Linked DNA regions of Homo sapiens. The protein of the gene in region 1 interacts with the protein of each later gene in a pairwise test. Each region holds a gene or a part of one and is shown in the gene's direction. Other genes may lie near its edges. The genes, in order: BPTF and SMARCA1.

The links.
Region 2: the proteins of BPTF (region 1) and SMARCA1 interact in binary tests that used the Homo sapiens proteins (3 or more experiments, as listed by UniProt).

What each region holds. Positions count from the first base shown.
Region 1 is NC_000017.11:67,828,266-67,839,461, forward strand, and holds part of BPTF (nucleosome-remodeling factor subunit BPTF), read left to right. Parts: intron 1-11,196. UniProt on the Homo sapiens protein: Regulatory subunit of the ATP-dependent NURF-1 and NURF-5 ISWI chromatin remodeling complexes, which form ordered nucleosome arrays on chromatin and facilitate access to DNA during DNA-templated processes such as DNA replication, transcription, and repair.
Region 2 is NC_000023.11:129,517,870-129,529,539, reverse strand, and holds the start of SMARCA1 (SWI/SNF-related matrix-associated actin-dependent regulator of chromatin subfamily A member 1), read left to right. Parts: upstream 1-6,049; 5' UTR 6,050-6,169; coding exon 6,170-6,343; intron 6,344-10,892; exon of another isoform or gene 10,893-10,964; intron 10,965-11,092; coding exon 11,093-11,179; intron 11,180-11,670.

The sequences.
Region 1 (11,196 bases):
AAATCACATGTTGGTCTTCTTTGCACCCAGAGCCGGTAATTGAAACACGGAGACTGAATTGCATACACCCCTGGAGGAAGTTTTTTCTGGTTAAAAAGAGCTGAGACATTTTGGCAGGACAGTTCAGCTAACTTTAAGTCCTATTCGAAGGCATAGCAAATAATATTTAAGATTGATGGGTGTGCATATGCTGACTTAAATTACAATTTGTAGCTAGGTGTCCTTTAAGAAAAATGTGTTTACTTTTGATACTTTTGTGACATTTTGTTTTTCTTTTTTTGAGAAGGAGTTTTGCTCTTGCTGCCCAGGCTGGAGTGCAATGGCACAATCTTGGCTCACTGCAACCTCCACCTCCTGGGTTCAAGCAATTCTCCTGCCTCAGCCTCCCAAGTAGCTGGGATTAAAGGCATGCAGCACCACGCCCAGCTAATTTTGTATTTTTAGTAATGACGGGGTTTCTCCGTGTTGGTCAGGCTGGTCTTGAACTCCCGACCTCAGTTGATCCACCTGCCTCAGCCTCCCAAAGTGCTGGGATTACAGGCATGAGCTACCGTGCCTGGTCTGACATTTTGTTTTTCTTAATGACACTTGTGTCTACTTGTCTTATCCTTATATGAAATTATTAACTCCTTAGAGATAAGTATTGAGCTTATTCCCCCTGCAGCTCCTGTAACAGAGTTTTGCACATAGCAGGTGCTCATCAAAGATTGGTTGGATAAATTATTGTTAGTAGATAAGAACTTGTAATAGATGAAGTTTTGATAACTCTACAGTGGGTGTCATAATCTCTAAATACTTTGGATTTAGGAAACTAAAAATTGGTCTAATTGTTTTTTGTTTTTGTTTTTTGTTGTTGTTGTTTTTTCTAATTGGTTTTTGATGGACAATTTGATCAGTGAATGTTTTTTTTTTTTTCTGTGAACGTTTTTCATTGCAAGAGTTACTTTGTTTTTGAGTTGCTATTTCATATTGCTTGCCAGGCATTTTCCTTTATTGGCTGTGATGTTAATTTGGATGCTTTACCTTTTGCAACACATTATTTTTAAAGATTATGGTAAAATAGATGTGACTTTTTTTTTTCCTTATCTCTTCTAAAAAAAAACGGGATACATGTGCAGAACGTGCAGGTTTGTTGCATAGGTATACGTGTGCCATGGTGGCTTGCTGCACTTACCGACCGGCCCTCTAAGTTCCCTCCCCTTGCCCCCCACCCCCCGGATGTGACATTTTGAGTTCTAAACTTTTAGAACATGCCCACTTGCCTGGAATGAGTAACAATGCATGACAGTGAGTTGATTAGGCTAAGTACCAGTTTCATTGGTTTTTTAGTCTGTACTTCCTGGAGGAAGGCTGTCAGGTAAATGTGTAGATAGAAGAAAAAAAGTTTTAGAACTGGTTTAAGATATCCGAATAACACATAAAGAAGTATGATTGATGAGTTTGAATCCTGTTGTACTGTGAAGGCTGAAAGAGGAATTTACCTTATTGGTAATTTAGAGTAATTTGATTAATTTTTATAGTTTACAGGGTTGGTTTAAGTACTGACGTGACATTCCTAACATAAGAAATAGCTCACTCCTAATACAAGAAATAACTCAGTATTTTGTAGGTAATGTAACAATGCAAAGACATTAGTTGACATTACTAAAGTCATGAAAGGTTTATTCATTGAAGATTGTTTTCCTTTTATGGAAAAAATGTAAGGATGCCAACTTTTTAGTATAAAATTGAAATCACCTAGTTTTGCTTAAGCTAAAGGCATATCGCTGAATAATGCTTTAATTCATTTTTACTTTTTAAATTTAGACTTACTTCAGCCTATAGGTTTTATGACATTGCCAATATACTGAGAAGGATTGTATAGGAAGTGTTTTCAATAGGCATTTGGTAAGGTTCTGACAGCACTTTGAAATTAAGCATTTGCTAATTTTAAGAAATTATATTTAAAACAGAATGGTTCTTGTGTTGCAGTCTCAGTCTTGTGTGAGACTTCTGAGAATACTTACCTGGAATTTTAAAACTTGGAACCTCTGATAACTTCATGAAACAAAAACCCTGGTGTTACCCTGGGAGAGTTAGTGATTTATGTCCTCTAAGGATTGTGACATTGGAGATCAGTGGCAGAGATGCCATGAATGAACCATAGATTCAAATTCAAGCAGAATTTGTCACTGGTTTGACAATATTATTCCTATCAGTGTCAATATCTTTTCAGTATAATTTCTGATTGCTGCATGCGAGGTACGCAGTGCAGTGGGCATTTTAAGGAGGGCGAGATAATATACCCCATTTAAGGGGATTGATGTGGGCATACACTTCCTGGATGGGCATGTGGAGAGTAAGGAAAGGCAGATTGAGGGAGGGAGGGAGGGAGAGGGAGCGGGAGCGGGAGGGAGCAGCAGGCACTGATAGTAAAGTGTGGGCAGTCTCAAGTAACTCGGTTTAGCAAGAGCCTGAGTGTGTGAATAGGAAATAAACCAAAGCTCCTTTGTATGCTGTGTTGGGCAGTACCTAGAGGATCAGGCTATAGCAACTGTACTTTCCCCCTTTTCTGTAGAATAGGGATTGGGCTGGATTGTGATCCTCAGCCCTTTTTCACTCCTGAACACCCAGAGGAGTTATGTTGTATTCCCAGCAGCACCATGCACAAACATGAAACAGAACCATATCAAATCACAGAGATGCTGTTGAACCACTGGTGTAGCTGTTTCTCCCAAATTGAGAGAATTACTGGGGAAATGGCCTGAAGCTCTCTCTCTTTCACATCTGTTTAATTTTGGGTATTGGGATGATCGGAAGATCTTGAAAGAGTGGGGTATGATTTCAGAGGGATGCCACGAAGTATAGCTTAGATTCTCTTCTGCAGGATGGATTGACAAGGACGAGATAGCTGGTGGGTTTTGTAGCCCTGGATGGAAGATCAGTCCAGGAGGCACTTTAGAGTTCTTCAGGCCTTGACACATAGATGTGTAGAGAGAGGAATGCATTACATATGCCTCCCTAAGAATGGTAGCACTTTCAGTAACAATGGGGAGGTCAAGATTATAAGGGAAATTAATGACATCTGTTTTCAGTTATCAGCACCTCAAGAGGTTAAACATGAGAATTAAACAAAATGAGAGCCAAAAGGGTTATGAAAAAGTTGGGCAATATGATTTGTGAGTAGTAGAGAGGTGTGTCCTAGGTATGCATTAATAAATAGTCTTGCACACAGTTCGTGCTTTTCTATTCTGCTCACCCACGGGCGTGTTTGGAAGTTTGTATTGAAACATGCGTATCACAGGACTGGGGATGTTAAGACCAGGAACTCTGGTCTCTTCTGTTAGGTCCTCCTTTCCTCTTTCCTCAAGACCCTGTGTCTTCCCTTTGACTAAAGACCCTTAATGGTGGAGACATGGGGGTGAGAGACTGGTAGTCATGGTGGGCAAGTAGTATTCTGGGTGACACAGGAGCAAATCCTAGCTGATGCCCTTTTCCCTTCCTGCTCCTTAGCCAGGCTGGAATCCCTCTTCCTGGGAGATCTTCCCTGAGTCCTGTTTTGCACCTTGGTCTTCCTTCTCTTTGAGTGCCTGCTTACGGTGGTTATGATCTCAGCACTAGCTTAATGCTGACACTGATTATTCTAATTTTATTTATTTATTTATGAGACAGAGTCTCACTCTGTCACCCAGGCTGGAGTGCAGTGGCATAATCTCGGTTCACTGCAACCTCCACCTCCTGGGTTCAAGCGATTCTCCTGCCTCAGCCTCCCGAGTAGGGGACTACAGGCGCCTGCCACCACGCCCGTCTAATTTTTGTATTTTTAGTAGAGACAGGGTTTCACCATATTGGCCAGGCTGGTCTCAAACTCCTGACCTTGTGATCCGCCTGCCTCAGCCTCCCAAAGTGCTGGGATTACAGGGGTGAGCTGCCGTACCCGGCCTCTAATTTTTTTCATGCTTTTGGTTTTTTAAAATGATAAGCCTCAGGAGGCAGCATGTTTCTTAATTTAAAAAAAAAAAACCACTTATACATTAAAATGCACTTTAAAAGATCGAAGGTGACCGTATAGAAATAATTAAAATGCACGTAAATATAATTATAATGTTTTAATTGTTTTGTCTGCTGGTATATATCTAAAATTTTTATGTTTTTCTAGATAGTAAGTTATATTCAACTATTATTTTGTGATTGTCACATTTTAAAAATAGTGACAGTAATAGCTAAATTTATTGGACATCTTCTGAATTGCTGAATGATTTTCAAGCAATATTTATGAAAATTCAGTTTTTAAAAGGTAACAGCTGTATGGAGATATAATTTATATACTGTAAAATGTACCCTTGTAAAGTATATAATTTAGTGGTTTTTTTAGTATATTGACAGAGTTGTGCAACCATTAACACTACCTAATTCCAGCACGTTTTTATACCCCCGCAAAAGAAGCCCGCACCGTCAGCATCACTCCCTGTTCTTCACCTCCCTCCTGCTCATCCCTGGCAGCCACTAATCTACTTTGATTCCCTGTTGATTCGCCTCTTTTTTTTTTTTTTTTTTTTTTGAGGCAGAGTCTCGCTCTGTCACCTGGGCTGGAGTGGAGTGGCGGGATCTCAGCTCACTGCAACCTCCACCTCCCGGGTTTAAGCGATTCTCCTGCCTCAGCCTCCCAAGTAGCTGGGATTACAGGCACCTGCCACTGTGCCTGGCTAATTTTTTGTATTTTTTTTTTTTTTTAGTAGAGACAGGGTTTTACTATGTTGGCCAGGCCGGTCTCGAACTCCTGATCTTGTAATCCACTCGCCTCAGCCTCCCAAAGTGCTGGGATTACAGGCGTGAGCCACTGCGCCCCGCCTGATTTGCCTCTTATGGACATTTCTTATAAAGTGGAATCATATAATATATGTCTTCCATCATTTAGCCTAATGTTTTCAAGCGTTATGCATATCTTAACATGTATCAGTACTATATTTGAATAACACTTCATTGTATGGCTATACAGCCTTTTTTTTTTTTTTATGGAGACAGGGTCTTGCAGTGTTGCCCAGGCTGACCTCAAACTCCTGGACTCAGGCAATCTTCCTGCCTCAGCCTTCCAGCCTCCAGAGTAGCTAGGATTACAGGCACACATCTCTGTGTCCAGAGACCATGTTTTGCTTATCCATTTCTTAAGTTCATGGACATCTGAACTGTTTCCACTTTTTGGCCATTAGGAATAATGCTGCTGAGCACATTCGTGTACATGTTTTTATCTGTACGTATGTTTTCATTTCTCTTGGGTATATAACTAGGATTATTTGCTGTATTATTGCAAATTCAGTTTTAATTTCTTTCTTTTTTTTTTTTTTGAGACAGAGTCTCTTGTCGCCCAGGCTGGAGTGCAGTGGCATGATCTTGGCTCACTGCAACCTCTGCCTTCTGGGTTCAAGTGATTCTCCTGTCTCAGCCTCCTGAGTAGCTGGGACTACAGGTGTGTGCCACCATGCCTGGCTAATTTTTGTATTTTTACTAGAAGAGGGTTTCACCATGTTGGCCTTGCTTGTCTTGAACTTCTGACCTCAAGTGATCCACCCGCCTTGGCCTCCCAAAGTGCTGGGATTACAGGTGTGAGCCACCGTGCCTGGAAGAAAGTAATTCAGGAGTTAGAATGAATCCTTAGTGATAGATTGGTTAGGCTGGGATGTGGTGAGTGGGAGAAAAGGATTCAAGGATGAACTGACTTCTGAATCTCCCTTATTTCTCTTTTCCTTATTCACTCCTTATTTCTTCTCTTCATCTCGAATGGATCTAGTAATACTGATTTCTTTGTAGTTCTCACACACCTAACTCCTAGTCATCCATCCATCACCTTCTCCAGCCTGCCTTCTCTGATCACCATTCCCTTTACCGCCAGGTGGGGCTAAGTTCCTGTGTTTCCCACCCGTATAACCTCCAGGACCATGTGCATTAAGTGTTTTAGTTTCCAAATATTTGGGAATTTTTTAGCTATCCTTCTGTTACTGATTTCTAATTTAATTTCATTTTGTTCAGAGAGTATACTTTGTATGACTTTAATTTTATAAAACATTTTTAGAGGTTTGTTTTGCACCCCAAAATTTTGTCAGTCTAAGTGAATGTTCCATATGTACTTGAAAAGAATTTTGTATTCTGCTCTTGTTGAGTGGAGTATTGCATAAATGTCAATTAGGTCAAGTTTGTTGATAATGTTACTAAGATCTGTCTGACTTTCTGCTTGTTCTGTTGATTACTGAGAGAAGTCTTGAAGTCTGCAGCTATTGTGAAGGATTTGTCTGTTTCTCCTTGAAGTTCTAGCAATCTTCATGTATTTTGAGGCTTTATATTCATGTATTTTGAGGCTCCTTCCTAAAGTCCATAAACCTTTAGGAAGGATTATTTTATCCTCTTAATTATTTAACCCCTTTATCTCTATCTTTATCTGTTAAGACATGGAGCTGAAATGGGCTTTTAATATCTGGCCCTTCTTTAATTACAACCTACTTTGGGCAGGGACAGTCTCATTCAGTCTCTGTAGTGCCTGGTTCAATCTCTTGAATGCAGTAGGCAGCACAAGTAATTGTGGAACTGAATGATGAGTCAAAGAAAGCCTGTGGATTCTTTTCACGCTCTATACTGTCCAGTATGGTAGCCACTAGCCACATGTGGAGAGTTAAATTAATTAAAACTAGGCAGGCCAAGCGTGGTGGCTCATACCTGTAGTCCCAATACTTTGGGAGGCTGAGGTGGGAAGATCACTTAAGGCAGCAGTTGAAGACTAGCCTGAGCAACATAGTAAGACACTGTCTTTACAAAAGAATTAAAATAGTTTGGCAGAGGTTGGCATGCCTGTAGTCCTACCTAATTGGGAGGCTGAGGTGGGAGGATTGCTTGAGCCCAGGAGTTAGAGGCCCTAGTCAGCTATGGACCATGCCACCACACTCCAGCCTGGGTGACAGAGTGAGAACCCATCTCTTAAAAAAAAAATTTAAGTAAAATGAAAAGTTAGTTTCTCCTGTGGCACTAGCTGTTATATGTTCATTTCAAGTGCTCTATAGCCACATGTATTGCACCACACAAATGTAGAGCATTTGGGGCATTTCATATCATTGCAGAAAGTTCTCCTGGACTCATTGTAGTCAGTCTGCCTCTGTTAGACCAGGGGGAATTTACCTAACATCTCTTTTTCTCTAGCCTTTTATTTGCCCTAAATCCTGCACAGCTTGGGTAGCCCCAGCACTCTGGCTGAGTGAAGTCCTCCTTTGTGGAGACTCTGGGCCCAGCATTATTTGTGTATGTGATGGTATTGCATTTCTGCAATAAGATTTGGGGTCATGTGTGAGATGACTTTCCATTATTTGTTGTCCTTGGTGGTAGGGTGAAGAGGAAGTTAACATGTGATTAGAAAATCTGCCACAGTCCTGGTAATTTTTTTTTTTTTTTTTTTTGAGACGGAGTCTCGCTCTGTCGCCCAGGCTGGAGTGCGGTGGCGCGATTTCGGCTCACTGTGAGCTCTGCCTCCCGGGTTCACGCCATTCTCTTGCCTCAGCCTCCCAAGTAGCTGGGACTACAGGCACCTGCCACCATGCCCGGCTAATTTTTTGTAATTTTAGTAGAGATGGGGTTTCACCATGGTAGCCAGGATGGTCTTGATTTCCTGACCTTGTGATCCGCCCACCTCAGCCTCCCAAAGTGCTGGGATTACAGGCGTGAGCCACCATGCCTGGCCCAGTCCTGGTAAAATTAAGCTAAAAGTTATATATATAGGCCAGAAGAGAAGGAAGGATTAGGATTCAGAGACTTTTGGTTGAGAAATTAAATTTGATAATTCAGAGAATTTCAGTGTTATAAAAGTGTAAAAGCTGATATGCAAACTGAATTGCGAGATGTTAGTATGTCCTAGTGTGTCTGGGTTCTCCTGTATAAAACGTCTTAGGAGTCACTGGCCAAATTATTTATCTATGGAACCCCCTGAGATTTGCTAAGAAAGTTATACTTAGACTTCTTTCTACTCATGGATATGTTCTGTAATTCACACGCTTGGGAAACGGCATGGCCATGTGATTCATACCAAATGGCAATGTTCAGTAGGTGCAGTTTATATATTTTACTAGAAATATGGCTTCTTGCTCGATTTCAGTATGTTCATAGTGCCTCTTTTGAGGTCTGTGTATAGTATATAGTATATTCTATTTATGGAAGTTAAGAAGTATTTCAGAAATGCATGTATTAATCTGTGTGGAATTTCTCTTGTCCTGTTCTAATTCTTGCATAGATACTTGTCTCAAGAGATGGTCCAACATTTAAAATAGTGAATGACATCTTAGCTCATCCTAAAACAATCCTTTCTAAAGGTTTATGAACTTATTCATAGAGCCTCAAAATACATGAGGACTGATAAAACTCCAAGGAGAAACAGACAAATCCTTAACAATATCGTAGACTTCAACACTCTTCTCACAGTAATCAAGAGAACAAGTAGGCAGAAAGAAAGTGCAGTTTTCTGTTTTTGTAGACAGCAAAATTATTTCACACACTTCTTAAAGTCTTATTCAGTAAGTTACTCATTTCTCCACCTTATGACTGTACTGTGCTTTCAAAGTGCTGTGCAAAGAGTAAAATGTTTTAAGGTGGTTTTACTGTAATTTCACATACATATTTGAACTTTTGAGTCTGAATTATCCAGGTGAAATGCATTGGATTTCTGATCCTCTGTAAACTTGGAAGATTACCTTCTTCCAGGTATATTGGTTTTCCTTAATTGCTTTAATAGCATGAGTTGTGAATCTTCTCTGTGTCTCAGAAGAAACCTAACAGTGGAGATTGTTTATGGCAAGGGTCACAAATTTACATGCTCAGGTTAGGACCCTCTTTAAGGTAAAGACATGAAGTGCCCCCCTTTTTATTAATACATAACTGCATTTGCTGATAATATTGATTTGCCTTAAAAAAACTAGTCCTATTGAGAATTCAGGCTCTTTTTGCGTTTACAGACAGTGCTGTCCTGAATGTGCTAGAGATGTACCTTTAGTCACTTAAGCTGGTGTTTCTGTAGGGTAGATTCCTAGGACTGGGATTGGATTGTTGCATTATAGTGTGTACCATTTAAAAGTCTGGACCAGATTATACTCTCAACATCTGTTTTTAAACCTTCCCTAGTCTGTGCTTATGTGTTTTGTTTTTTTTTTTTGAGATGGAGTCTTGCTCTGTCGCCCAGGCTGGAGTGCAGTGGCATGATCTCAGCTCACTGCAACCTCCACCTCCTTGGTCCAAGCAGTTCCCCTGCCTCAGCCTCCTGAGTAGCTGTGATTAAAGGCGGACGCCACCACGCCTGGCTAATTTTTTTGTATTTTTAGTAGTGACGGGGTTTCACCATGTTGGCCAGACTCATCTGGAATTGCTGACCTCAGGCAATCTGCCCACCTTGGCCTCTCAAAGTGCTGGGATTACAGGCGTGAGCCACCGTGCCCAGCCTATGTGGTTTTAAATTAACTTTTTCTAGAATCTACTAAGGTTTACTCAGACCTTTAGCAGGTGTTCTTGGATACTGACTAGGCCCAGAGTCCTCTTCTCATCAATTTATTGGCAAATACACTCACTTGCGATGTGATATGAGACCCTGAGTTTTACCTCCCAAATGGCAGGATGTCTGTTTTGAGAGTTTCCTGGCCAAGTGGTGGAAAGTACCATGGAAATGGAGTTCTTCATTGCTTCTTACTTAACTTGAGTTTGGACCATAGAGAAGTCATTCTTGTGTGGACCTCAGTTTACTCACCTGTACAGTATAGGATGGACTAGATGATCTAATGGTCAGGGGACTGGCAAACTTGTTCTTAGGTTACCAATTAGTAGATATTTCAGGTTTTGCAGGCCATCTGGCTCTGTCACAGCTGCTCAGCTCTGCCCTCATAGCAGGAAAGCAGCCATAGACAATAAGTAAACAAATGAGCATGGCTGCTTTCTAATAAAACTTTATTTACAAAAACAGGCTGTGGCTGGCCATAGTTTATTCACCCCATTTTTGAGCTCTTGACATTCATTAGTCTGTGATTTCGATAATTCGTTTAGGAAAAAGGCTTTGAGTTTTACAAATAATGCTTCTGAAAATCTAGTAAAACCTTTAAATTTTATTTTTGCTTCTTCTCTTTATCAGGAAAGTAATGTAGAACATTTAGAAAACCCAGAACATTAATATTTTGGTTCCTCTCATTAGTTAACCATCTTTGTGTAAACATGTGTATGTACATACTTTTTTTTTTGAGCTGGAGTATCGCTCTGTCACCCAAGCTGGAGTGCAGTGGCACAATCTTGGCTCACTGCAACCTCCACCTCTTAGGTTCAGGTGATTCTCTTGCCTCAGCCTCCAGAGTAGCTGGGACTACAGGTGCTCGCTGCCATGCCTGGCTAGTTTTTTATATTTTTTTAGTAGAGACGAGGTTTCACCAGCCCAGGCTGGTGTTGAACTCCTGAGCTCAGTCAGTCCTTCCTCCTTGGCTTCCCAAACTGTTGGGATTACAGGCGTGAGCCACCACACCCAGCACATGTGTGCATACATACTTTTTACAAAATTGGAAGAAGTATAATTCATTTGCTAAATATTTTCACTTATGCCATGAAATCAGATTTTATCTTTGTGTATAAAAATACCTGCTCTGCTGGGGCTTCTAGTTGAAAACTAATGAATTTTAAAAATTAATTTAGTATTTAGCCACCTATTCTTTTTTCTAATTGTTTCTTGTAGCTTTTGCTTTGATTGGAATAATTTTACTCTAGGAATAAAGTTGTGTCATCTGCAAAAATGAATCATATGTACACATCTGATTTTCTTACATTTGTATCTCCTTTTTCTCTTCAAATTACATTGCCCTCTACCATTGATGGGAACCTGGGTAATAAAAAAAAAAGAAAAAAAAGAAACAAATTGCATTGTGTACCACCTCCAAAGCAATGTTAAATGTTAGTTATAACGATAGGCATCTTAGTATGCTTTCCGAATTTAATGGAACTGATGCGAATATTTCATGGTTAACTGTGGGTTTGAGACCTTCAATGTGTTGAATGTATTCACCTGGTTCTCTTTTTTTTCCTAAGTTTTTTTTTAAAAAAAAATCAGCTATGGCTATTGTATTTTGTCACATGTCATCTTAGCATCTTTTAAGATGATCATATAGTTTTTCTCCTGCAAGCTACATATTAATTACTGTGGTGTATATTCATAGAATTATA
Region 2 (11,670 bases), on another chromosome or scaffold:
AGCCTCCCAAGTAGCTGGGATTATGGGCATGCGCCACCACACCCAGCTAATTTTGTATTTTTATTAGAGACGGGATTTCTCCACGTTGGTCAGGCTGCCCTCAAACTCCCGACCTCAGGTGATTCTCCCATCTCGGCCTCCCAAAGTGCTGGGATTATAGGCATGAGCCACCGTGCCTGGCCCCTCCGGCCTCTTTTTAAACAAAGACAAATCGAGTATGACTCCTGTCCTCAAAAAAGTCACAGTCTAAGTAGAGAAGTAGCCTAACCCTCTTCTCCCTCATTACTGCCTTTCTTCAGAACTTACCTTTGGGGAAGTGTAACTGCACCAAATTGCTGACCCTGATAAATGATAATGAACAGAGAAAATGAACTTGGCAAACAGCACTTCCGCCTTATTCCTATTTTAGTTTAGCACTGACTTTCAGACTTACTTTATCATATTCTGGCTTTTTCCTTGGCTTAGCCAAAACTCAAAGCAGCACCCTGCTTTTTTCTTTTTGTTAACTACCATCCACTGAGTATCTGTTATATGCCGGGATCATGTTAAATGTTTTATACACATATTTTACATTAAATCCTCATGAGATCACGTTGAATTAGGTATTATTATACCCATTTTACAGATGCAAATCAGAGGAGAGAGAGGTTAAACAATTTAGTAGAATCTGAACTCCAAGTCTTTCTGACTCTACAGCCAAAGCTGGTAATAATTGTACTATTTTGCCTCTAATAATACCGCCATGGATAATATTGTGCCTTTACATACATAGTAAATACATGGAAATCAATGGTAACATGTGCATCCATGAGAATTTCTACTTGCATGTAATAGAAACTAACTCTGACTTATTTAAGTGGAAATAAAAAGTATTAAATAGTGAAAAAATATTGGGCCTTTAGCAAACCCAATTCAGATTATTTAGCATGTGTTTCGTGTTTTAGGGCATGTATGGGTGGGTAGAATGTCAGGGTTGGGAGCATTTAAGAAAATCTTGCTGGGCGCAGTGGCTCACGCCTGTAATCCCAGGACTTTGGGAGGCCAAGGCGGGCGGATCAAGAGGTCAGGAGTTTCAGACCAGCCTGACCGACATGGTGAAACCCCATATCTACTAAAAATACAAAAATTAGCCAGGCGTGGTGGCACACGCCTGTAGTCCCAGCTACTCGGGAGGCTGAGACAGAAGAATCGCTTGAATCCAGGAGGTGGTGGTTGCAGTGAGCTGGGATTGTGCCACTGCACTCCAGCCTGGGCGACAGAACGAGACTCTGTCTCAAAAAAAAAAAAAAAAAAAAGAAAGAAAGAAAATCTCATTTTTTTTCCTGAGCTAGTTTTGCAAAATTGCTTAAAAGTAGAAAAATCATTTTATATACCGCCTAAAACAATGTCAAAAATCATTCCTCAATCAAGTAACATTATTGTGAACCGTATAATACTCACATTGCTTCTGCTACATTATACATTACTACTGCATTGTCTCTTCTGTGTGAAATTGTTCTGTTCATTTTTTTTTTCGGGACGAAGTCTTGCTCTGTCACCCAGGCTAGAGTGCAGTGGTGTGACCTTGGCTCACTGCAACTTCCGCCTCCCGGGTTCAAGCGATTCTCCTGCCTCAGCCTCCCAAGTAGCTGGGATTACAGGTGCCTGCCACCACACCCAGTTAATTTTTTTTATTTTTAGAAGAGACGGGGTTTCACCCTCTTGGCCAGGCTGGTCTCGAACTCCTGACTTCATGATCTACCCACCTCGGCCTCTCAATGTGCTGGTATTACAGGCGTGAGCCACTGCACCTGGCCTGTTTTTTTTTGTTTTTTTGTTTTTGTTTTTGTTTTTGACTCACCCTATCTACAAGGTCATACTCCTTCTGTTAAGGATTAATTTCAACTTGTTCAGTTTTGAGTAATACGTTTTGATTCATCTATAAAATGGTATTTATCTATTACATAAAGAAACACCTTCATTGAGGAAAACTAGAATAGAAAAGCAAAATAAGAAAAAAATATTACACACAATCCCACCACCTTGCTGTATGTAACTACTGGTTTAACATTTGGAGTAGAACCTTCCAGGGTTTGTCCTTTGTGGAAATACATTTATGTAAATAGTGTTTTTCAGTGTGTGTGTGTGGTGAAAATGGGATCATTCTAACTTTTTGCCTGTATGTTTTCACTTAACAATATACAGGAATATATTTTCATGTCAACAGATACCTGATTACATAATCATTCATTTTTTTTTTTTTTTTTTGAAACGGAGTCTCACTCTGTCGCCCAGGCTGGGGTGCAGTGGTGCCACCTCGCCTCACTGCAACCTCCCCCTCCAGAATTCAAGCAATTCTCCTGCCTCAGCCTCCCTAGTAGCTGGGATTACAGGCGCCCGCCACTACGCACAGGTAATTTTTTGTATTTTTAGTAGAGATGGGGTTTCATCATGTTGGCCAGGCTGGTCTCGAACTTCTGACCTTGTGATTCACCTGCCTCGGCCTCCCAAAGTTCTGGGATTACAGGCATGAGCCACCGCGTCTAGTCAACACATAATCATTCTTAATGCTTGCATAACATTCCATTTATTAATGTACTATACAATGTTTTGCCAATCCTTTCTTCTTGGACATCTCAGTTCTTTCTGTTACGCTCTCCCCTTCTTTGCACAAACTGTCCTGAGTCCCATTACTGTTTTGAGAGTTTACTTTAGAGCATGGGTGTCCAACCTTTTGGCTTCCCTGGGTCATACTGGAAGAATAATTGTCCTGGGCCACACATAAAATACTAATGCCAATGATAGCTGATACTCAAAAAAAAAAAAAAAAAAAAAAAAAAGGTCCATGCCGAATTTTCATGATATCCACCACCACAGATAGGCAAAAAAGTTCTTGCATTCAAAGGGTCGGACACGGCTGCTTTAGAGGGAACACCATGGAGATAGATGGCAGAAATATTTTTCAGTTATTTTCTCAGTATAATTTCTACTGTCAAGGAGGAAGCCCTGTGAAGACCAGTGAACTTAATAAAGATGAAAAACGAGGTTTGGACTAGACAGTCTGGGGTTTGAATGTCACTTACTAGCTGTGGAACCTTAGATGAGTTGTTTAGCCTAAATCTCCATTTTCTTATCTGTAAAATAGGGATAATAATATTTATTTCATAGAATTATTTGGAGGATTAGCAATATCATATGTAAAGAATCTAGCACAGTGCCTAATACAATAGTGGGTGCTCAAGAAATGGTAGACATATACTAGTTATTACCATGACCTTTTCCTTAAAATACAGATCACCAAGGAAATATCACATTTTCAAAAATGCCACTATCATAAATGTCTTTAAAAAAATAGTGAGAAAGCTTACTGATATGAACAGAATGGTTACTGTAGCTGTAAGCAAGACAGTGTGTCCAGAATCTTTTCTGCCAGTTTCTGAAGAACATTAATCAGTCGGATCACAATGTGGTTTTAAGTCATACTGTGGTTTCAATGACAAATTTCAGATGCAAAATAAGAGAAGGAACACGAAGCCTTTGGCTTTTCCTTTATGAATTTTGTAAAACATTTAATATCACCAGTGGACACATGTTCTAGTAGCTACTAAACAAGTTTGGCTATTCGAGAATGATTGTTGAATAACCTCTATAATCTACCAAAATGGACGTATTGACTGGTAGACCAAGATTAGTTCTGAGGTTCCCAGTTTATTTTTATTTTTATTTTATTTTATTTTTTGATACGGAGTCTCGCTCTGTTGCCAGGCTGGAGTGCAGTGGCTTGATCTTCGCTCACTGCAATCTCTACCTCCTGGGTTCAAGCGATTCTCCTGCCTCAGCCTCCCGAGTAGCTGGGATTACAGGCACGCACCACCATACCCAGCTAATTTTTGTATTTTTAGTAGAGAAGGGGTTTCACCATGTTGGCCAGGATGGTCTGGATCTCCTTGTGATCAGCCTGCCTCGGCCTCCCAAAGTGCTGGGATTACAGGCGTGAGAGCCAGTTCTTTATAAAAGTTTGCTCTGTTCTCCAACCCCAATGGAATAGAGCAATCCAAGACCATTTCAAATGAAAAGACATAATTGGGGAAAGTAGTAGCAGATAGAGCAAGGTGTTGAGTAGGCTCAGAAATGAGATGACTCTTGTTGAACAAAGTCTACAGATCATGAATTTTAGGCAGATTTACAAATAAGGATAGCACATGCTCTGTAAATAGCAGCTGTTGCCACAAGCCAAAGGGCAATATTTACATGAATCCTGTGGCAAGGTCTGTTGACCAAGCATCGACCTTTCCAGCCAAATTCATATACTTGGTAGCACTTTCAGCCGCGTCATCTTGAAAAGGAAGGATTGCATTATACATGCATGGAAAATTGCCAACGTACAAATATGTTCTGCCCCCAAATAAATTTTTAAATTCTTTTTTTGGAACATGGAACACATGTCCCCACAAAAAAAAGGTGTTATAAAGGGATGTGTTTCCCAGATTTCCTCACAAAAGTGCATTTAACCCACGATGTAACTGAAATAATGTACACTGACAATGAGAAATACAGTGGAACAAAACTGACTTGAAAGCAGGGACACACCAATACACAACAAATATTTCTTGAGCTTTTCTCCTTTGCAGCCCCATGCAAGGAAAGAGGAATTCTATCTTTCAATAGCTGCAACATGGTGAAAAATAAATCCTCCACTGTTGCTGTCCTTAAGGGTCCTTCTCAAGACAGGGTATTTAGGGTGTCCATTGCCTCAAGTATTTATCATTTCTATGTGTTGGGAACATTTCATGTCCTCTCTTCTAGCTATTTCGAAATATACATTGCATTGTTTGTTCAGTAGAGTCACCCTACTCTACTTTGAACATTATAACTTATTCCTTCCATCTAACTGTATATTTGTACTCATTAACTGACCTCTCTTCATTGATCCGCCTCAACCCCACACACCCTTCCCAGACTTCTGGTACCTATCATTCTACTCTCTACCTCCATGAGATCAACTTTTTAGCTCCCACATATGAGTGAGAACATGTGTTATTTGTCTTTCTGTGCCTGGCTTATTTTGTGCAACATAATAAACATCAGTTTCATTTATGTTGCTGCAAATGACATTTCATTCTTTTTTATGGCTACATAGTATTCCATTGTGTATACAGACCACATTTTCCTTAACCATTCACCTGCTGATGGACACTGATTGATTCTGTATCACGAAATGATTTTATATCCATGATCATTCATATTATGTGTTGTATTATTACCAAATAATAATGGAGGTGCAAATAGAACCTGTGCCAAAAAATCACAGTAATTCATTTCAATTGCTAATATTGAGTGCCTACCACATGTTGCCCCAGGTTCGGTGGGTAACCTTGTCCCCTAGGAATTTAAAAATGCAGTGGTGAAGGTAAGAGAAGTGTTCCTGCACATTGGCTACCTGAGAGGTACCAGAGGTGAAAATAGAGCAAATATACGTAAAACTTGAGAGTCAGACTTTGCCTTGTAAGTGAATGTGTTTGCAGCTGCAATCAAGAGATTCAAGGAGTGCTTCTCTTTGTGCAGAATTTAGGAAGGTGGAAACAGCACCGCTAATCCTACCTCTTTAGGGATCCGGGAAAGGGCAGTCCCAGAGGGGTTCCGCGCTTTGCAAATGGTGAAAAAGACCTTCTACAGTACAGTTAGGAGCAGAGGAAAAGTTCTTTGTGCAAGAAGGGGAGAGCGCCCCGAGGTACAAAGAGCAGATTTAAGGGAAAGAGGATTCGTTCTGCACGCATCTGCGAGGGGAGCTCAGGCTCACTGTTGGGGGCGTGTGGGAAAGGAGATTTTCAGGGGGCCGCGAGTTGTGGGTTCCCGCCTCCACCCCTGTCCGCGCCCCACACTCAGGCAACAGTTGGTCGTGCGGGGCCGGCCCGGGCTCTGGGTGGGGAAGGGGAGTCTCGCGATCGTTGAGGGGGGGGGGGTGGAGGAAGGGGGGAGAGTGACGGGGGGAGGCCATGACGTAGGGTGGGTGGACGGAAGTGGGGCAGGGTTGAGGGTTATTTAAAGAAGGGGGGGCCTGAGCGAAGGGGTTGGAAGCGGAGTGATTCCCCACCCCTGCTCCATCTAGCTCTTTCCAGTGCAGCCACTGCCGCCGCCCAGGAGCCCTCGTCCCCTGCCTTGTCCCCCTACTCGTTCCCGCTCCCACGGCATGGAGCAGGACACTGCCGCAGTGGCAGCCACCGTGGCAGCCGCGGATGCGACCGCCACTATCGTGGTCATAGAGGACGAGCAGCCCGGGCCGTCCACCTCTCAGGAGGAGGGAGCGGCCGCCGCGGCCACCGAAGCCACCGCGGCCACGGAGAAGGGCGAGAAGAAGAAGGAGGTAAATAGGAAGGGGGTGTGTGTGTGGTGGACAAATCCTGTGCCTGGCCCCTCTGAGGGGCCCAAACCCTGACCTTTCGGCGCCGACAGGTACCCGCGGAGCTTTGCGGGGCTAGGGGCGGCGGGTGCGGGGGTCGGCGGCGGAACCGCCTGGCGTTCGCTCCCCTCCCCCTTTCCTTCTCGCCGCCTGGAGGACGGGGGCGGGGCTGGGCGCGGGCGGGAGCGGCGCGGGGTGGAGGGGTGCCCGCTCTCCCGGGGCCTGGGGGCTCGGGAGCCCCTCGACAGCCCCCGACCCCCTCCACCTTCCCGGAACTCGGGTAACGGGGTGGGGGATGGGGCTGTGCAGGAAAAAGCCTCCGCCTCTCCCTCTCCTCTCGCTCGCTCCCTCTCCCCCCGCCTTCCCGTCGGCCTCTGCCTGGGAAATCTGGGCCCTTCAATCCCACACTCGCGCTAAAGGGGTTTTGCTGGGGCTTTTTTTGTAATTTGAATTTCAAGGTGCTGGTGGTTGCTGGGTGGAGGGTGACAGGGAAGACATTTCTTTCTTTCATTGGCAATGTCGGTCTTTTGGATGGCAGGAAAAAAACCATCCCTTGTTCGTTTGAACCCCGCCTGCCGAGGTGGGGGTGTCACCCCGAGGAAAGGAGCTCTCTGCGTCGTACCCCCCCGCCCCCCCAAACTGAGGAACCGTGGACGCTGGCTTAGGAAAATTTCCAACATCTGCACCCTCACCCTCTTCTGCCCCGCCCCCGACGGTATAGGGTTTCACTCCAGGGCCACCCCAATGGTCCCTCAATCCGGCCCCAAGCTTTCCAGGCTTCCGCCTCCCTCTCCTAGTGGGCGCTGCTGGCTCCTGGACACACACAGGTTTTTTTTTTTTTTCTCCTTTAATTTTTAAAAAACTCAGCGTCGCCAAGATGAGCTGCTTCTAACGTAAGGGAACTGCTCTGACACATATTAAAGCCAATCCAGAAAATATGTATTATCTCCATAAGGCACATTTCGTGTGGCCCGAGACATGCAAATAAAACTATAAAACGTTGAAAAATTGACATAAAAATAGGATGGGGCATAAGCATTTTTGATGTATGATAAAATTGCATAACTAATGGTTTATGTGTGGATTTTTTCCTATTTACGAGTAGTCATATCGCAATTTTAAAAAGGTGGGTAATTATGCTTTAGAGATCTCAAGTGGCTTTGTCTGAATCATTATATGATACTATACGACCAAATGAAAAGCTTTTGAGGAAAATGAACACCTTTCGCCTTAAATGAGAAGAGTAATTTTAAATTTAGCAGTTGCTTCTGTGACATATTTTACTATTACAAGGTTGACTAAACAGAAGGACAATTGTAGTGCTAAATGAAAACCGTAGAAAACATACACATTGTAAGATCTACGCGGTACTTGGATTAGTAAGACAATATTGTTGGTTAAAAGTGGGTGTAATACCAAGCATCAATATAAATCAAATGTTGTGAAATTCGGAAATGTCTGTGTGCCTTTTATTCCCTGGACTGGGCAAATGTGAGTGCCAAACTGCCTTTTGTATGGCAGGAGAGGTTGTCGAATTTCCAGATTGTATAAATTTTTGAATTTTGTATAAAATTTTGTATTGTGAAAAAACGGGAGACCAATAAAAAAGCTATATAATATAAACACTGAGTTGATGCCTACATATTTGTCAACTCTTGCCTCATTAGAAATTGCCCTACCAGTACTTCATTTGTCCACCCAGGACAGGGAAATGAGGTGCTGTATGTCAGGAACTTCCTGGATATCCATTTTTATTTTTAATTTTTCCTTAAAAAATGAAATACATTACATACTACCTTGACACTTTAAATTGCATACTAAAAGTGCAGATTAACCTCTTCTTCATGGCCATCAGTTAGTGTACTTTGACAGTGACACAAAGGCACCTGAAATCCCGCAGGTTGTTCCCTCTCAATTAAGTAACCACCTACCAGACTCTTGCAGTGTTGTGTTGATTTTTAAAAATAATTTTTCCAGCCGGGCGCGGTGGCTCGCGCCTGTAATCCTAGCACTTTGGGAGGCCGAGGCGGGTAGATCACTTGAGGTCAGGAGTTCGAAACCAGCCTGGCCAATATGGTGAAACCCCGTCTCTACTAAAAATACCAAAAAAAAAAAATTAGCCAAGTGTGGTGGCAGGCACCTGTAATCCCAGCTACTTGGGAGGCTGAGGCAGGAGAATCGCTTGAACCCGGAAGGCTCAGGTTGCAGTGAGCCGAGATCCCACCACTGCACTCCAACCTGAGCAACAGAGTGAGACTCCGTCTCAAAATAAATAAATAAATAAAAATTTTCTGTCTTCTTCCTTAATTGCCAGGCTGTTAGCGATCACTTTTTAAACACCTCTAGTTTCACCAGAAATAATATGTTAGTTTATGATAAAGATTATAGGTGTAACAAAACCATAAACTCATTTGAAAACCACTGTAAAATACAAAAGTGTCAGTGATAAAACAGGGAGAGGGAAATAATGACACGTGCACACCAAGAATCAGTGATGCTACTGCAGTGGAAGACATTTTCGTCCTTGGTTTCTGCCGTGTCTTCTTGTAGAGTGCCTTCATCTAGTGATCTTTCCATGTCATTTACTGTTGCTTGTATTCTCGGTGACATGGGAAGCCAGATTTTCAAACTTGGTGGAATTGTCTACCAAATAAAAAGAAAATAGGTTTCTGAATGAGAGCGCTTTCATGATGAATACAGTAGATGAGAATTAGTGAATTGACCTGTGACATTTACCTACTCAAAGGTGTTTTTGCTTACTTTCTGGTTGTTGAATTTAGTTGGTTTAAGTGACGGTTGGATTACCCAACACTGTAGACATGAAAACGTCAAGAAAAAGGTCATGGTCTTTAAAACAAGCCATTTTGTTGACCTTGTGCTGCATTCTCATGGCACCTAGACTCAGATAACAAAATCCAAAGGAATTCATTAGAGTCTCTTAGTCACTTTTCATCTTTTCTTGTATGAAAAAAATGTAGTTTTGAGAATACACACACACACACACACACACACACACACACACGAGAGAAGGTTTAGAAGGTAGGTATTTTAAAATTTGTTGTGGAAGATAGTGCCAATTAAGTAATTACCCACAGCTTTTAATAGCCCTGCTCAAGATTAGGATTTTAATTAGCATATAATTAGATTTTGATGGTAGTCTACCGCAAGGTAAGCAAAAAAGTAATGGGTAAAATGTTTTTCTAGGATTAAAGCTTTAATTTTCTGTAAGTGTACTTCCCACATTATTATATATATTTGTGCGTATGAGGCAAAGTAATTTTCATTGTTTTGATACTGGAAAACTGCACTTCATATAACCTTTCAAGGAATGAATGATAAACGTATGGATTTGATACCCAATTTTTCTTGTTGCTTTGAAAATAAATATGATTTATATTATATATGGCAGTCTGAAAGTGTGAGTTTGAGGGGCTCTTTAGCAGTTTTCTATTCTCATCCATCCAGGATTACATTCAAAACATTCCATATAGATGTGTACGTATCAGATGCTGTAAATCAAGATGGTTATTATTTGGGTTAGTGTAACTGAATGATATCTGATCAGTGCTACAAAGTAAGAGTCTGGACAAGGTCAAATTCCATAATCTCAGTTTGGATTTCCTCAAAATAGAAATTTTAGTAAATATTGGAAGACATAATGGGGGCCATATTTTTCTTATGTTTAAGGTCACATTCTGTTGATTTTTGACCTAAGTTTTCATAAATAGGTTGACAAAAGCCATGATAGTTTTCACGAACAAATTTGTGTTTTCTCTTATGCAAAGTATGTGTTAAAACTGAAATGCTCTCATCTTTGGTTCTGGTGGGTAGATTTGTGTTTTTATTATTTTATTTCTTGGTTTCTTATAGGGAAGGAGGCTTATTCTATATATGTATTTATATTTGCCAGTACAGGCTTGTCTTTACAAAGGATAGGGTGCATGAGATAACCCCCTTCCCCAGATAATCTCTATATTAAGTTATTGATTGATGTTAGTTTTCGCTAAATTACAATTTAAAAATATCAAACATTAATAGTTAAGTAGCCTTGACAAATTGCTTCTACAAGATGTTTATGCAATATAAATAGTTTAAAGTAGTTTTCTTCCCAGTTAGAGAAAATTAACATAAGCCAAAAGTTTAAAACTGTACTATTATATTAAGTATATGTGATCACATTGCATTACATAAAAAATTAAATATTCTTATAATACTATGAAAACAATTTTAAAAATATCGTTTTAGGAACAGAAACCACAGTTTTTTTTTCTGAAAGTGTGGCGTATTTCCATGACATAAAGGAGTGTTTCTTAGAATTAATATTTACTTTCTTTGAATTATTTGGTTTGTGGTTGATATTAGCCTTTTCTAGATTTTAAAATCTCTTATTTAATGTTTACACATTTTCTTACACTATAAATTAAAGAATGGATGAGAAAGCTCAGTGTCTTGCCTTTTGGGTTTTATTCCAATTAATATTTCTTTGGCATTCACAATTTTTCAGATTTTTTTTATTGGACCTCAGGTGTACAGAACTGGATTAATCATAAGCCTTGTTTTGTGACATGCTCTCATCATTGGTCCATACATGTCCCACATTGATTTATATATTTAGTTATGTAATTACTTTCCGCCTTCTTCTAATGAGAGCATTGACCAGTTTAAGAACCTTGCTTTGCAATTTGGTGACATTTATTTTCTTTGAAATTCTAGAAAAACGTTTCTTCATTTCAACTCAAACTTGCTGCTAAAGCGCCTAAATCTGAAAAGGAAATGGACCCAGAATATGAAGAGAAAATGGTAAATGTAGTCTTGGATAGGATAGTGAATGCTGTAATTAATTTTTATAGTTGAGATGTTAAAGATGAAAAAATACATGTATATATATAATGCATAGAGAATCATTGATTTTAGAATTGGAAAATAATTTAATATACAATCTATCACAATATTTTCTGTTGAATAAATTAACCTCCTCATTTTCAGATGAGGAAATAAAGGATCAGGGAAGCTATATGTCATAGTTAGGACTAGAAGTCACATCTCATTTTGGTTCGGTGCTCTCTGTCCCATAATAAAGTGCTTTAAGCTAGAAATATTTATTTATGAGGTGAAAATATCAGTGGTAATACCACTGTGGCTTTGTGACCTGAGAGAAATCCAGTCACAAAGCCAGATTGACGTATTTTTGTTTCTTTCTCCTTCTTTGGACATATGAATAAATGCTACACATTAATGAAATGTGTAATATGTCAATACACTTTAAAGGGAAGAATATTTGTCCAATGCAT